Regions from separate parts of the Homo sapiens genome. Here region 1 is linked to region 2. Evidence: fine-mapped expression QTL. A gene starts in region 2. The other region holds a variant in brackets. All regions are shown on one strand. Distances are from middle to middle.

The links. PIP is the estimated chance that this variant, and not a neighbour inherited with it, causes the effect.
Region 1: its variant is fine-mapped to the expression of PCDHA3 in monocytes (Fairfax 2014, PIP 0.95).

Annotation. Positions count from the first base shown.
Region 1 is chr5:141,170,274-141,178,615 of GRCh38, forward strand. It overlaps PCDHB7 (protocadherin beta 7), which reads left to right and starts at 2,371. Exons shown (of 1, transcript NM_018940.4): 1 at 2,371-6,110. The coding sequence starts at 2,563. The coding sequence ends at 4,944. It overlaps PCDHB8 (protocadherin beta 8), which reads left to right and starts at 7,517. Exons shown (of 1, transcript NM_019120.5): 1 at 7,517-8,342. The coding sequence starts at 7,762. It also overlaps PCDHB@. RefSeq lists an enhancer at 4,341-4,971. The variant A/G (reference allele first, on the strand shown) is at 4,264.
Region 2 is chr5:140,796,125-140,804,466 of GRCh38, forward strand. It overlaps PCDHA3 (protocadherin alpha 3), which reads left to right and starts at 4,933. Exons shown (of 4, transcript NM_018906.3): 1 at 4,933-7,467. The coding sequence starts at 5,074. The region is part of intron 1 of PCDHA1 (protocadherin alpha 1); the gene reads left to right. It overlaps PCDHA2 (protocadherin alpha 2), which reads left to right. Exons shown (of 4, transcript NM_018905.3): 1 at 1-1,228. It also overlaps PCDHA@.

The DNA of each region.
Region 1 (8,342 bases), 370 kb after region 2:
AGGGTAGAATAAAGACATCTTAGTACATTTAAGATCACAAAAACATTTAACTCTGAAACACCCTTCTCCGAAAACTACTGGAAGGTATCTATCAAAATGAGAACCTAATTCAAGACAGGAGAAGACAGAAGAAACAGAAACTAGAAGATCCAAAACAGGACAGAAGTGAAATGAATCTCCAGGTGATGCTGAAGGATGATCCAAGGATGACAACTGAGCATAATGAACAACTAGTCCAGTAAGGAGCTGTTTGACTCAAGAGACAGAGATTTTGAAGGATATCATTAGCAATCCTCTTAACATTGTATCATCTTTTCAATCATATGAACCTATTGGAGGATGTGTTCTAGTAATGCCATAGAGTAAACTGAAAAAGGGCAAGTTATAAAATCCCAGAAATAGCAAACACATCCAGAATAAAAGGCAAAGAATTCCAAGAATGACAGCAAAGAAAAAAATCCAGAATGATAGCTGTGCAGTAGGCACAGAAAGCAACCACCCAATTTAAAGAAAAATTGAAGTCTCAGGAGGAATGGAAATGACTATGGGGAAAATTGCACTGACAGGCAATTGTATCTGTGGGATGAATAAGTGATAGGGATAAAAAAAATCAAGTAAATGAAAAGGCAAGATAATTATTAAAATCACAAAAAAATTGAAAAAGAAAACATAATTAATACACAATAATGTTCCCAATATATGGTAAGTAAAAGAAAATCTAAAATACCTAAAATGTAATCTAACATAATAAACAGTCAATTGATAATTTCTAAAATTAATTAATCAAAATATATCAGAAAACAGATTAGTGACTGAAGAGATAACTAAAAGAGTTTTAAAATGGCTACCTCTTAGAAGGGGAACTAAGAAAAGTGAGGAGGAAAAGGGCAGAACAAGCCTCTTAGTGCTATTTAATTTTGGACCAAGGTCATATATTATTTTGAAAAAAATGCATTTCAAAATATCAGTAAAGTAGAGCTCTTGCAAGTCTCACCAAGAATAAAAAGGAGTTAAAATGCTAAACATCACTAATAAAAATAGGGATACAATTAAAGGTAAATAACGCAATGAAAACAATTCCAAGAAATTTGCAAACTAGATAAAATGATTTTCAAAATAAAATGCAAGTTACTTAAAAATACAAAACCTGAACAGATTAATAACCAAAGGTAAAATGTAAATGGTAGTCACTGATCTACTGCAAGTGAAGTCACCAAACCCAACCAGTTTAAAAGACAAGCTGGAATTAAGCATGTAGAAACATATAATAATATAATTATTAAAACTATTGTATAAAATAGATAAAAAGCTCCCTAACACATTCTATGATGCCAGTATAATAGTTTAATACCAAGGCCATAAAAGGCAAACACGCACTAGGTAAACAACATTAACTAGAAAAATCCTAAAACCATGTTGACACATCATATCTATCTGTGCACTAAAACAATAATACATTATGGTTAAATGTCATTTATATCAATAACTCAGTAATTTAGAAACTAAAGAATAAATGTATTATTTCAACAGCTATCAAAAATCACTTCAAAATATGAAAGAATAAAAAGAAAACTTTATTGATTCAAAAAAGGAATATTTACCCCAAATTGAGATCAACCATCATAGTTGAAGATGAAATGCTAGAAGCACTTCCACAAATGCAAGATTGACCAACTTGCTACTACTAATTTTAAGAGTATTCATTGGACATTGGAGATTCTAGTCACTGAAATTATAGAGGAACAATAATTTCTTATGTAATACTTAAATCAGGTGAAGGATGAAGGTTGGGTTTGGGGGAGGCATAAAGTGTTCCAAGAAATATCACAGGTAAAGAGTTAAGACCTGGAAAGTGGAATAATTGTTTAATTCACAAGAAATTGGGAAAAGGGTCAATTATTCTGCCATATTCACATTATTATTGTTAAATACTTTACAAATAAATAAAATGTCCCCAACCAATATTTGTTGACTTCAAGGAGGAGGTTTCATTTTCTCATATATATTTTTACTATCCATTTTTAAAATAGGAGATTTTCTTAGGATTTCGGTGGGGAGTCAGAGTTTAGTTTCATGCTCCTAGATTTAAGAAGACTATAAATTAATTCTTCTACGAATCCAGATTATCACAGGGGAAAACGACATCAGCTATTACTTACTAGCATTACTGTGACCATTTGAGGATAAAGATGGAATGAAACAGCAAAGATACCGGGGACAAATCATTCTTGTTGCAGAATTCCTTCAATCCGCCATCTTTTTGTTCTAGTCTTGATAACGGGAATAACATCCACAAAACGCAAGGTGGCGCTGCTGGCTAAAAAGAGAGAGAGAAAAATAATTTCACAAAGAAAGGATGTTACAGATTCCAGAGCAAAGAGGCAATCTGAAGAGAAAAGCATAGGAAAGGAAACAGTGGTAATAGGAATTGGGGTAAAATGAGGATCCTTCCCCACAAACATTGCTATTATTCAGCTCATTTCAAAGGATTCCGCTGCTGCCATTTGTGAGAGCCGCTGGAGGCTGAGTGAAAGTCATTTTGAAAGACTGATCCAAAGAAGAATGGAGGCCAGAGTGGAGCGTGCTGTGCAGAAAAGGCAAGTCTTATTTCTTTGTGTATTTCTGGGAATGTCTTGGGCTGGCGCCGAACCGCTTCGGTATTTTGTGGCGGAGGAAACCGAGAGAGGCACCTTTCTTACCAACTTGGCAAAAGACCTAGGGTTAGGGGTAGGGGAACTGAGAGCCCGGGGAACTAGAATTGTTTCAGACCAGAACATGCAAATTTTACTGCTCAGTTCGCTTACTGGTGATCTACTTCTAAATGAGAAATTGGACCGAGAGGAACTGTGTGGCCCCAGAGAGCCCTGTGTGCTGCCTTTCCAGTTGTTATTGGAAAAACCTTTTCAGATTTTCCGTGCTGAACTATGGGTCAGAGACATCAATGATCACGCTCCAGTATTTCTAGACAGAGAGATTTCCTTGAAAATATTAGAAAGTACCACTCCAGGGGCGGCATTTCTCCTAGAGAGTGCACAGGATTCAGATGTTGGAACCAACAGCCTGAGTAACTACACCATCAGCCCCAATGCCTATTTCCATATTAATGTCCATGATAGCGGGGAGGGGAATATCTATCCCGAATTGGTGCTGAATCAAGTGCTGGATCGGGAAGAGATACCAGAGTTCAGTTTAACCCTCACCGCTTTAGACGGCGGCTCTCCTCCAAGATCAGGGACCGCCCTCGTGCGCATTCTGGTTCTAGACGTAAATGACAACGCCCCTGATTTTGTGCGGTCGCTCTACAAGGTGCAGGTGCCCGAAAATAGCCCCGTTGGTTCCATGGTTGTCTCCGTGTCAGCCAGAGATTTAGATACCGGAAGTAATGGGGAAATAGCCTATGCATTTTCTTACGCCACTGAAAGAATTCTCAAAACGTTTCAAATCAATCCAACATCTGGCAGTCTTCATCTTAAAGCGCAATTGGACTATGAGGCAATTCAAACTTACACATTAACTATTCAGGCCAAAGACGGCGGCGGGCTTTCTGGAAAATGCACTGTAGTGGTTGATGTAACAGATATAAACGATAATCGACCCGAGCTGCTCCTGTCTTCACTTACTAGCCCAATTGCAGAAAACTCACCCGAGACAGTCGTGGCTGTTTTTAGGATTAGAGACAGAGATTCCGGGAACAATGGAAAGACAGTGTGCTCCATCCAGGACGATGTCCCCTTCATCCTGAAGCCATCTGTCGAAAACTTCTATACTCTGGTAACAGAGAAACCTTTGGATCGAGAGAGGAACACTGAGTACAACATCACCATCACCGTCACCGACTTGGGGACACCCAGGCTGAAAACCGAGCACAACATAACCGTGCTGGTCTCCGACGTCAATGACAACGCTCCCGCCTTCACCCAAACCTCCTACACCCTGTTTGTCCGTGAGAACAACAGCCCCGCCCTGCCCATCGGCAGTGTCAGCGCCACAGACAGAGACTCGGGCACCAACGCCCAGGTCATCTACTCCCTGCTGCCGTCCCAGGACCCGCACCTGCCCCTCGCCTCCCTGGTCTCCATCAACGCGGACAACGGCCACCTGTTTGCCCTCAGGTCCCTGGACTACGAGGCCCTGCAGGCGTTCGAGTTCCGCGTGGGCGCCACAGACCGCGGCTCCCCCGCGCTGAGCAGCGAGGCGCTGGTGCGCGTGCTGGTGCTGGACGCCAACGACAACTCGCCCTTCGTGCTGTACCCGCTGCAGAAC[A/G]GCTCCGCGCCCTGCACCGAGCCGTTGCCCCGGGCGGCCGAGCCGGGCTACCTGGTGACCAAGGTGGTGGCGGTGGACGGCGACTCGGGCCAGAACGCCTGGCTGTCGTACCAGCTGCTCAAGGCCACGGAGCCCGGGCTATTCGGCGTGTGGGCGCACAATGGCGAGGTGCGTACCGCCAGGCTGCTGAGCGAGCGCGACGCAGCCAAGCAGAGGCTGGTGGTGCTGGTCAAGGACAATGGCGAGCCTCCGCGCTCGGCCACCGCCACGCTGCACGTGCTCCTGGTGGACGGCTTCTCCCAGCCCTACCTGCGGCTCCCGGAGGCGGCCCCGGACCAGGCCAACTCGCTCACCGTCTACCTGGTGGTGGCGTTGGCCTCGGTGTCTTCGCTCTTCCTCCTCTCGGTGCTCCTGTTCGTGGCGGTGCGGCTGTGCAGGAGGAGCAGGGCGGCCCCGGTGGGTCGCTGCTCGGTGCCTGAGGGCCCCTTTCCACGACATCTGGTGGACTTGAGCGGCACCGGGACCCTATCCCAGAGCTACCAGTATGAGGTGTGCCTGACTGGAGGCTCCGGGACAAATGAGTTCAAGTTTCTGAAACCAATTATCCCCAACCTGCTACCCCAGAGCACAGGCAGGGAAGTGGAAGAAAATCGCCCATTTCAGAATAATTTGGGTTTCTGATAAAGAATGTAAACTAAATCCGCGTCTGTGAATACGTTTCTGATTAGGAACTTATTGCGAGGTTCCCTTAAGGGAGTGTCTTTACATCATTTCAAATATGTACTCTTGAAGTCAAGCAATAAATTTCTATACATAAAATAGGATCCTGATTTAGTATCAAGAACCCTTCACAAAGCATGAAATGTATATGTGTAATGTTTTATGTCAAACAATTATGCTTAATATACAGTCTATTAAATGTAAGTCTTGTTTGAGATATTTTAAATTGCTTTCCATTGTTTTCAATCTCTACTGAGACTTCCTGAGTTGATTAGAAAGCTGTATGAGTGTACCTACCCTAGTCTCAGAAGCATAGACTGTAGAGTATCTTTTTAAGCATTTTTAAAAAATGCTTTTAATGCATCATACACTATTTTAACACTTTTAATCTGAGAAGAAGCATATGAGGCATGGTATTTTAGGAATGAACAAATAGATGGTCTTAGAGATTCAGTAAGTTCACTAAGTTCCACTAACTAATAAGTGACAAAACTGAGCATCCATCCCAGATCTGTCTGACTCTGGGTCAGTGACCCTGCTCCGATTCCATACTGTTTTCTGTCATTAGATATCACCTGGCAAGTTTCTGCCTAATTAAGGAGAAGTCTTTTATCATATTTATACTGCTGTCCAATCTTTTCTATATTTAGAAATAATAATGTACATATTTATCTATGGTTTTATTTTCTTATACACCAAAAGTCCTGCTTTTCTGGGTCAATTTTCAACTATTATTACTAATGCTCTGATCTGTCCAAACTCAAGCGGAAAACAAAATTGAAAGGGCAACCTGTGCCTTCTCCTTTCTTCAGAACATATGACTTTCATTTCCCAGAAAAAAGATTAATGGTCCTGAGTAGGAATATTACATAATTTTGATTGCATCATTAGTTAATTATTTTCTTCATATTGTAGATTTTCTGCAGTCACCCATACTTAACATTTGTAATACATTTTCCTGATTTGAAAGTTTGTTTTTAAAAGTTTTCTATTAATTATAGTGCACTATTGAATCAGGAAAATTTAAGAAAAAGAATAGTTAGTTTTAAATGCATAATATCAAAGAGAATCATAGATGATCATTAAATTTTTAGAAATTCTCGGAAGTTAAGGAGAAGCACTGTTTTTTATAAAAATTTACAACTGATTTTTATTTTTAAAATATCTAGATAATTTTTGCATGGTTGCATTCTGAAAATATTATAAACTAGTGCTGGTAACTCTAATAAAGGTAGTATTACTATATATCACTGGTGGGATAGAATCTAGAGGCAAAAAAACCTCACAGCAGTAAAATCTTAAAATGCTTTCATGGTCTTAGGGTAAAATTATCTAATTTCTCCAACAAATAAATAGCATGAAAAACAGGAGGAGAGAAGTCTACAGTAGGAAAGATCTTACGAGATCTACCAATCAAACGTAATGTGTGGATCTTGTCTGGATCTTCATTCAAACATCAGCAATGACTTTGAAACACTTGGAAGAGTTTGAATATAGATGGGTATTAAGTAATATTAACTGAATTTTTTAGGTATAATAATGGCATTGTACTTAAGGGTATTTTTAGAGTCACTTAAAGTTATTATGCATTTAAAGAAATGTACAATGAAGTATTTGTGGGTGAAAATTCAGTTTGTCTGGAACGTAAAGATGTTGGAGGGATAGCGTCAAGAATTATGGCAAGACATTGATAATAGTTGATGCTAGTACTGAGTAATTGCAGGTTAATTTTACTCCTCTCCTTTTATGAGATATGAAAAATATCAAAATAAAAGCTTTTTAAAATTGATGCTATTAGAAGAGAAATAGAGGTAACAAAAAAGGACACGCTTCCCCAGAAATAAAATCACCACTGCTGTTACACATTTTGTCTCTATTTAGACAAGCTCTCCAGCCTTTCCCTGTTTACCTTCACTGTTTGACATAACTTCTCTACCTGAGATAGTCATGTTCCTGTACTATTCTACCATGTAATTTTGAGGTGTTTTTCTAGTTATAGCAATGGATTTATGCAGAGTCACCTACCTGGTGGTATCAAATTGCCATATACCGGGTACATAGTTTATTTTTAAGCTTAATCTCTCTTTGAATCAGTTTCCTCATGTGTAAGGTGGGGAAATCACAACAGCCCTATGTGGTAGGTGCTATTATTATCCTCATTTTACAGATGAGGAAATTAAAGCAGAGAGATTAAATAATTTGTTCGAGGTTCACAGCTACTAATTATTCCTATGGTTCATGGAAATAAAACTATAAAGATCTAAATGTTGCCCATGTTAACTACTATTATATTTGAAATTCTTTTTGCCAAGCTAGACTGTTACCTAAATATTTCCTTTTTGCCCAAAACTCAGTTAGCATTGTTGAAAGACTAACGCAATTTCTCCTTCGGGCAGTTGTCTGCTCAGTAACGTCCGGCGATATTAACCGTGGTGTTGTAACTTTACATAGTCCCAGGGTACATACAGGCAGAGTTGGGAATATTACATCTATTATCATCCCACAAAATGTAAGATCCTGTGAGGACCCGTGGTGGCGCTGCAGGATAAGAAGGCACAAACCAGAACCGCAGCTGCAGCTCCATTAACCGGCAAAAAGCAGCAGAACCTGGAAGTCCACGGGGAGCTTGGATGCCAAAGGGAGGACGGCTGGGTCCTCTGGAGAGGACTACTCACTGGCATATTTCTGAGGTATCTGTAGAAAACCACAGCCTCAGATACTGGGGACTTTACAGTCCCACAGAACCGTCCTCCCAGGAAGCTGAATTCAGCAAGAACAATGGAGGCCAGCGGGAAGCTCATTTGCAGACAAAGGCAAGTCCTTTTTTCCTTTCTCCTTTTGGGCTTATCTCTGGCGGGCGCGGCGGAACCTAGAAGCTATTCTGTGGTGGAGGAAACTGAGGGCAGCTCCTTTGTCACCAATTTAGCAAAGGACCTGGGTCTGGAGCAGAGGGAATTCTCCAGGCGGGGGGTTAGGGTTGTTTCCAGAGGGAACAAACTACATTTGCAGCTCAATCAGGAGACCGCGGATTTGTTGCTAAATGAGAAATTGGACCGTGAGGATCTGTGCGGTCACACAGAGCCCTGTGTGCTACGTTTCCAAGTGTTGCTAGAGAGTCCCTTCGAGTTTTTTCAAGCTGAGCTGCAAGTAATAGACATAAACGACCACTCTCCAGTATTTCTGGACAAACAAATGTTGGTGAAAGTATCAGAGAGCAGTCCTCCTGGGACTGCGTTTCCTCTGAAGAATGCTGAAGACTTAGATATAGGCCAAAACAATATTGAGAACTATATAATCAGCCCCAACTCCTATTTTCGGGTCCTCACCCGCAAACGCAGTGATGGCAGGAAATACCCAGA
Region 2 (8,342 bases):
CTCCCTGACGCCCCACGTCCCTTTCAAGCTGGTGTCCACCTTCAAGAATTACTACTCGTTGGTGCTGGACAGCGCCCTGGACCGCGAGAGCGTGTCAGCCTATGAGCTGGTGGTGACCGCACGGGACGGGGGCTCGCCTTCACTGTGGGCCACCACCAGCGTGTCCATCGAGGTGGCCGACGTGAACGACAACGCGCCGGCGTTCGCACAGCCTGAGTACACAGTATTCGTGAAGGAGAACAACCCGCCGGGCTGCCACATCTTCACGGTGTCAGCGTGGGATGCGGACGCGCAGGAGAACGCGCTGGTGTCCTACTCGCTGGTGGAGCGGCGGGTGGGCGAGCGCGCGTTGTCGAGCTACGTTTCGGTGCACGCGGAGAGCGGCAAGGTGTACGCGCTGCAGCCGCTGGACCACGAGGAAGTGGAGCTGCTGCAGTTCCAGGTGAGCGCGCGGGATGCGGGCGTGCCGCCTCTGGGCAGCAACGTGACGCTGCAGGTGTTCGTGCTGGACGAGAACGACAACGCGCCGGCACTGTTGGCGCCTAGGGCTGGCACCGCTGCTGGCGCAGTGAGTGAGCTGGTGCCGTGGTCGGTGGGTGCAGGGCACGTGGTGGCGAAGGTGCGCGCAGTGGACGCTGACTCAGGCTACAACGCGTGGCTTTCGTACGAGCTTCAGCTGGGTACTGGCAGCGCTCGCATCCCGTTCCGCGTGGGGCTATACACGGGTGAGATCAGCACGACACGTGCCCTAGACGAGGCTGACTCCCCTCGACACCGCCTACTCGTGCTGGTGAAGGACCACGGCGAACCAGCGTTGACAGCCACGGCCACCGTGTTAGTGTCGTTGGTGGAAAGTGGCCAGGCACCCAAGGCCTCGTCGCGGGCGTGGGTGGGCGCCGCGGGCTCAGAGGCTACGCTGGTGGATGTCAACGTGTACCTGATCATCGCCATCTGCGCGGTATCCAGCCTGTTGGTGCTCACGGTGCTGCTGTACACTGCGCTGCGGTGCTCGGTGCCACCCACCGAGGGTGCGCGCGCGCCAGGAAAGCCCACGCTGGTGTGCTCCAGCGCCGTGGGGAGCTGGTCTTACTCGCAGCAGAGGCGGCAGAGGGTGTGCTCTGGGGAGGACCCCCCCAAGACGGACCTCATGGCCTTCAGCCCTAGCTTATCTCAAGGTCCAGACTCCGCAGAAGAGAAACAGCTCTCAGAATCAGAATACGTAGGAAAGGTGAGTCTTTTACTTTTTCTTGCCAATTCTAAAATTGTTCTTTTTAAAAAATTCTATATGATTTCTACTAGTTATTTAGATTCATAGTTCTTCATTTATTTTATATCATCCTACCGTGCGATTTTGAATATGAATTAGAGATCAATTTATTGCATTTACTGAACAATTTATTTAAACAATCTACATAACTGTTTTCTTATTTTTACATTTTGGCACTTCCATCATTAAGTCATAAGTAATAGACCATGAAACACTGAAAAACACCTCAGCAAAATTTGTAAATTAAACATTTCCCATAAATATTTTCTCTCTTAAAAATTGAAAATCACAATCGGAAGAAATTAAAGAATTTGATTATATAATACGTATTTTCAACTGACACTGTCTATCCAATCTGTCGGATAGTGTTTGGAATAACCTATATCCTGGACATTTCTTAGATTGTTCTTTGGATCAACAATGCCCTTGTCTATGCAATAGTTAATAAGCTACATTTTTTTTTTGTTTGTTTGTTTTTGTTGAGACAGTCTTGCTCTGTCACCTAGGCTGGAGTGCAGTGGTGTGATCTCAGCTCACTATAACCTCTGCCACCCGGGTTCAAGTGATTGTCTTGCCTCAGCCTCCTTAGTAACTGGGATTACAGGCGCCCACCACCACGCCCGGCTATTTTCTTTTTTAAATTTTTTATTTTTAGTAGAGACGGGGTTGGTCTCAACTAAATGTTGGCCAGGCTGGTCTCAAACTCCTGGCCTCAAGTGATCCACCCTCCTAGGCCTCCCAAAGTGCTGGGATTACAGGAGTGAGCCACTGCACCTGGTCTTTTTATTTGTATTTGAAAGCAGCCTGAGTGGATATTTTAACACCAGAATTTCCAAAAGTATGTAGCACAGGTTGTTACAACAAAATGACAGCACTTAGGAATAACTGCTAATCTTAAGTATGTTTTTTATAAGTAAAATAACCCATTATTTGGTATAAAGATTTCACACTGATAACATTTTTGAGTTATCAGGCAAAAATAGAGAGTATTGAGAAAAGAGACCCTCTCAATTTTGTTTAATTTGAAAATATTAACATTTAAAAATCACACTGGGGTTTTTCAGGTGGTGGGACTTTTTCTTCATTTAAGTGGAGACTACCCAGTCTTTATGTTAATGGTTGATAAATCATCCTTTCAGTATCATTATCATTAGGCCAATGTGTGCAGGCCTCCCACTGCAGAGATTGACTACTTTTTTCTGGCATCTAATTCTATGCGTGGGAATACATTTTCCATTAATGTGAGCTCACTCAATTTTACCTGGAAGCATCCATATTCCTAATGAAATTGGAATTTTTCCAAAAGATGAGGCCTGGTCTTGGATGACTACATTTTCACTTGAAACATTTATTTTGGGTAATTATAACACTGAACTCGACAAGTAAATGTTACACTTGGAAAGAACTTTTTTAGCTTTTCCAACCAAAGGCAGATGTATTGCAATAAAATAACTGTCTTAAACGGTCCTCTACTATTTAGTTCTTAGTTATTTGCTGTTTATTCTAAATATATGTGCATATTGATAAATCATAGAAATAACTTCCACTAGTGATCTTACCTTTAGCCATTTCATAGTTAGGTCAGAATATCCATTTCCAAGTAATACTTGACCACTATGTTTCTACCATAGGTAAATGATAAGCTTCTAAAATTATATTCACATATATCCAAATCTCCAGGAGTCACAATCTGTTGCTCTATAAGTTTTTTCAAAACATTCTTATTTACATTTTTTCTTGGTTGTCTAAGTGACATCTAGGTGGTAGTAGAAATTATTCACTGATACTTTATCTACAAAATGGCTCAATCTTCTAAACTCATAGTTCCTTTAATATTACCTTTATCTCTTAATAATCAGTATGGAGTCTACTCTGCTATAAATTCTCATGTGACATTCCATTTTGCAATTAGTATAACTCTTAAAGGTACTGAAAAGTGCAGTATTACAATAAGTTGTCAAAGGCATCTCATTACTATGAAGTCCATGAAGTTTAAAAATTTTAAATTTATCTCTTATTTTCAAACTAGCTACCATCTTTAAAAATTCAGCAAAGTGGTAACTGGAATATTAATAGCTATAATTATTTCTTAGGTCCATGCTTTTCAGAAATAATGCTTAAATGTTTACTTACTTCTTCATAATATAGCACAATATAATCATTTAGAAATTATGTAAGTTTGATATTAACAAATATCATTAACTTACATTTTTATTTATCTTGCTTGAAAAAGTTAATTCAAAATATTAATTTATTTATTCATGAAAACAACAATTGATAATTTATCCTATTCTAAATATGAATGATAAAATCTGAGTAAGTTGCAGTCCTGGCTTCCATTTCATGAATACACAGGAAACAAAAGCTGAAATGAAAACTTTTCCCCTAAATATTTAAATCACATGTTTGATTTCATTTTTAAATGGTCTGGGTATAAGCAAAAATTTGTACATTATTTTATTTCTCTAAATTTGACCTCTTTCCATAAATTTTCTTTGCCCCACTTCCAAATGCGGCGAGAATTCATGCTTCTCATTGAATTCACAGATATCTTTAGAATGTTTTATTGCTTAGTGTTAAATATGTTGAGTAAATACTGGCTTATGTTCCTAGGTTACTTTTCTCCCTTCACTGTTTAGTTAAATAATCAATTCTTTCAAGTAACAACTTTTAAAAAAACTGGAATCTAGAAATTCATCAGGAGTGGAGATCATCAAAAACGTAATTACTTTATATTGTTAACATTTTAGTATATACAGGTAAATTCAAATACATAAAGAGTGTGGAAAAATTAAACCTAATATATTCTTAATTGATGTGATGTGAGTGTAACAAATATACAAATCACATTCCCACAATAGGAAACAAATTTCCTGTTTGAATTTCTCTGTAAAGGACCGACTTCTGAAATCTTTATGTAAGTTACAGTCAAGACAGTTGATGAGGCTATAGTTCTTGAAAAAGGGGCATGGGAGGGAATTACAGACATTCTACAAATTTAAAAAACCATAAATGTACATATTTTAAGAAATTAACAGTTGCTGTAATAACATAAAAGTAGATATATGTATGTTTTAATATATACAGCACACACACACTTTTAAATACTTCAACATCTCAATGTTTTGATGATCATAAATCTGAAAGGATCTGATTTTTCTATAAAATGTAACTTGGGTGGTAAAGAGGTTAATGGTAAGTTGTCTTGAATCAGATTGAAATCCCATCGTACCAAGAGATAATATCGTTTTACTTAACCTCTATGTGTTTATAAAAAGCGAATAATATTAAAACTTATTTCAGAGGATTGTGATAATTTAACGGGATAATTCCATTAAGACAAATAGAAAAGTGGCTGTCACATGGGAAATATTTCCAATAGATGTCCACTGTTAAAACAGGAATCACAATATTTTAGTGTATGTCATGAATTAGCACAATTGATAGTGAATTAGTATAAAAGTTCTAAGGAAATATTTAGATAAAATATAAGGACTTTGAGGAGTGACCGAAGGATATTACAATTGAAACTAGAAATTTTGGGAAAGTTCAAACGACATACAAGGAAAAGAAGATACGTTTACATATTTAATACTTACACGTTTAGCCACATGATGTCGCTGTCCACCACAAGGTCTTTCTCCACAAAAGAAATAACAGCGTGCATTACGTATTCAGATACTGCTTTGCTTCATCCTCTCTAAAATTTAACACCGAGGAGTTTAAGAAATGAAGATAAGGAACTCGAATTATTTTTAAACTTTGGATCAATGTAAAGGCAATCTAATATTTGGAAAATACTTGCAATGTTGTTCTCCTGGCGAGAAGATCCTGGAGCCCAGTGCCTGCTGCTTTCTCTTCTGCTCCTCGCAGCCTCGGAGGTGGGGAGCGGCCAGCTCCACTACTCCGTCTCTGAGGAGGCCAAGCATGGCACCTTCGTGGGCCGCATCGCGCAGGACCTGGGGCTGGAGCTGGCGGAGCTGGTGCCGCGCCTGTTCCGGGTGGCGTCCAAAAGACACGGGGACCTTCTGGAGGTAAATCTGCAGAATGGCATTTTGTTTGTGAATTCTCGGATAGACCGCGAGGAACTGTGCGGGCGGAGCGCGGAGTGCAGCATCCACCTGGAGGTGATCGTGGACAGGCCGCTGCAGGTTTTCCATGTGGAGGTGGAAGTGAAGGACATTAATGACAACGCGCCAGTTTTTCCAATGGCTGTAAAGAATCTGTTTATTTCCGAATCCCGACAGCCTGGCTCTCGGTTTTCGCTAGAGGGCGCATCAGATGCAGATATCGGAACAAATTCGTTGTTGACTTACAGTCTTGATTCCACTGAATATTTTACCTTGGACGTTAAAAGAAATGATGAGGAAATTAAATCCCTTGGACTCGTGTTGAAAAAAAATTTAAATCGAGAGGACACTCCTAAGCATTATTTACTAATAACAGCAATTGATGGTGGGAAACCAGAGCTCACTGGCACGACTCAACTAAAGATCACTGTTTTAGATGTAAACGACAACGCCCCAGCGTTTGAGAGGACGATCTATAAAGTCAGATTACTCGAAAATGCACCAAATGGTACCCTAGTGGTGACCGTTAACGCCACCGATTTGGATGAAGGAGTAAATAAGGATATCGCGTATTCTTTCAATACGGACATGTCAGCAGATATTCTGTCAAAATTCCATTTAGATCCAGTCAATGGACAAATCAGTGTAAAGGGTAACATAGATTTCGAGGAAAGTAAGTCATATGAAATCCAGGTAGAAGCCACGGATAAAGGAAATCCCCCAATGTCAGATCACTGCACAGTTCTACTCGAAATTGTGGACATCAATGATAATGTACCTGAGTTAGTTATTCAATCACTATCTTTACCTGTATTAGAAGACTCTCCACTTAGCACAGTCATCGCTCTGATCAGCGTGTCCGACCGCGACTCAGGAGTCAATGGACAGGTCACCTGCTCGCTGACGCCCCACGTCCCCTTCAAGCTGGTGTCCACCTTCAAGAATTACTACTCATTGGTGCTGGACAGCCCTCTGGACCGCGAGAGCGTGTCGGCCTATGAGCTGGTGGTGACTGCTCGGGACGGGGGCTCGCCTTCACTGTGGGCCACGGCCAGCGTGTCCGTGGAGGTGGCCGACGTGAACGACAATGCGCCGGCATTCTCGCAGTCCGAGTACACGGTGTTCGTGAAGGAGAACAACCCGCCGGGCTGCCACATCTTCACGGTGTCTGCGCGGGACGCGGACGCGCAGGAGAACGCCCTGGTGTCCTACTCGCTGGTGGAACGGCGGGTGGGGGAGCGCGCGCTGTCGAGCTACGTGTCGGTACACGCGGAGAGCGGCAAGGTGTACGCGCTGCAGCCGCTGGACCACGAGGAGCTAGAGCTGCTGCAGTTCCAGGTGAGTGCGCGCGATGCGGGCGTGCCGCCTCTGGGCAGCAACGTGACGCTGCAGGTGTTCGTGCTGGACGAGAACGACAACGCGCCGGCACTGCTGATGCCTCGGGTGGGTGGCATCGGTGGCGCAGTGAGCGAGCTGGTGCCGCGGTCAGTGGGTGCGGGCCACGTGGTAGCGAAGGTGCGCGCAGTGGATGCAGACTCAGGCTACAACGCGTGGCTTTCGTATGAGCTGCAGCCTGGGACCGGCGGTGCGCGCATCCCGTTTCGCGTGGGGCTGTACACGGGAGAGATCAGCACGACCCGTGCCCTGGACGAGGTGGACGCCCCGCGCCATCGCCTACTGGTGCTGGTGAAGGACCACGGTGAACCCTCATTGACCGCCACGGCCACTGTGCTGGTGTCGCTGGTGGAGAGTGGCCAGGCACCCAAGGCCTCGTCCCAGGCGTCCGCTGGCGCCACGGGCCCGGAAGCTGCACTGGTGGATGTCAACGTGTACTTGATCGTCGCCATCTGCGCGGTGTCCAGTCTGTTGGTGCTCACACTGCTGCTATATACTGCTCTGCGGTGCTCCGCGCCGCCAACCGAAGGCGACTGTGGGCCGGGCAAGCCCACGCTGGTGTGCTCCAGCGCGGTGGGGAGCTGGTCATACTCGCAGCAGAGGCAGCAGAGGGTGTGCTCTGGAGAGGGGTTGCCCAAGACCGACCTCATGGCTTTTAGCCCTAGCCTTCCTCCTTGTCCAATTAGCCGGGATAGAGAGGAGAAACAGGATGTGGACGTTGATCTCTCAGCCAAAGTGAGTAATTTTTATTTATTCTTTCCAAAATGTCTTTGTTTTTCATTCCTCAATGTTTCCACTCCTCTGGAAATACATTAATAGTTAAGTATGAATTATGTGATTCATAATTAGACTTTTCCAGTTTTGTGGTTTTGTGGTTAAAACGGTAAGATTTTTGTTGCTAATTTTTGAACCAAATCAGCAGTAAGTTATGATATCCACACTTGTAATTTTGTTTTGTTATTAGGTGCAGTAGTAGAATTATTTTATTGCTAAATGCCTGGGTATAAGACAAATATTTTTTCTTAGATGAATTGCATTATTTAGAGAATCTGACTTCGACTTGTTTTATACTTATCCCTATACAATGCTTCTTCAATATCTTTTGCCACTTTTCATTTGGACTTCCTACTACCTGTTAGTACAAATGTTACTTGCTCATTTTATGAGTTCACCTAATGCTTATAACTCCCTATTGATTATGCTTTTCCACCTTCAGTTTCAAAAATTAGATCATTACACCTGTTGTCTTTTATGGAACCTCTTTTATTCTCTTATTCACTTGTTTGGAGTCTCAATCCTTATTTTTTACTTGAATATGATTCATTTTAGGCCTTGTGCTCTAATTTGGCAATACCGTTTATTGTTTCTTGATTTCCCAGTTGGGAAAAAAATCGAGAATAACAATTGCATTTAGAATTGCATCTTTGTTCATCTTTAGTTTATCACTACTTTATTTAATACTACTTTAATAATACTACTGTATTATATGTTAAAATTTATTACTAATAACTAAAATATCAATATGAAGTGAAAATTTAATAGTTGTATAGTATATTTATATATTCATTTTAAAAGAATGTTTTAAATCTTGTTAAAAATAATTTTCAATC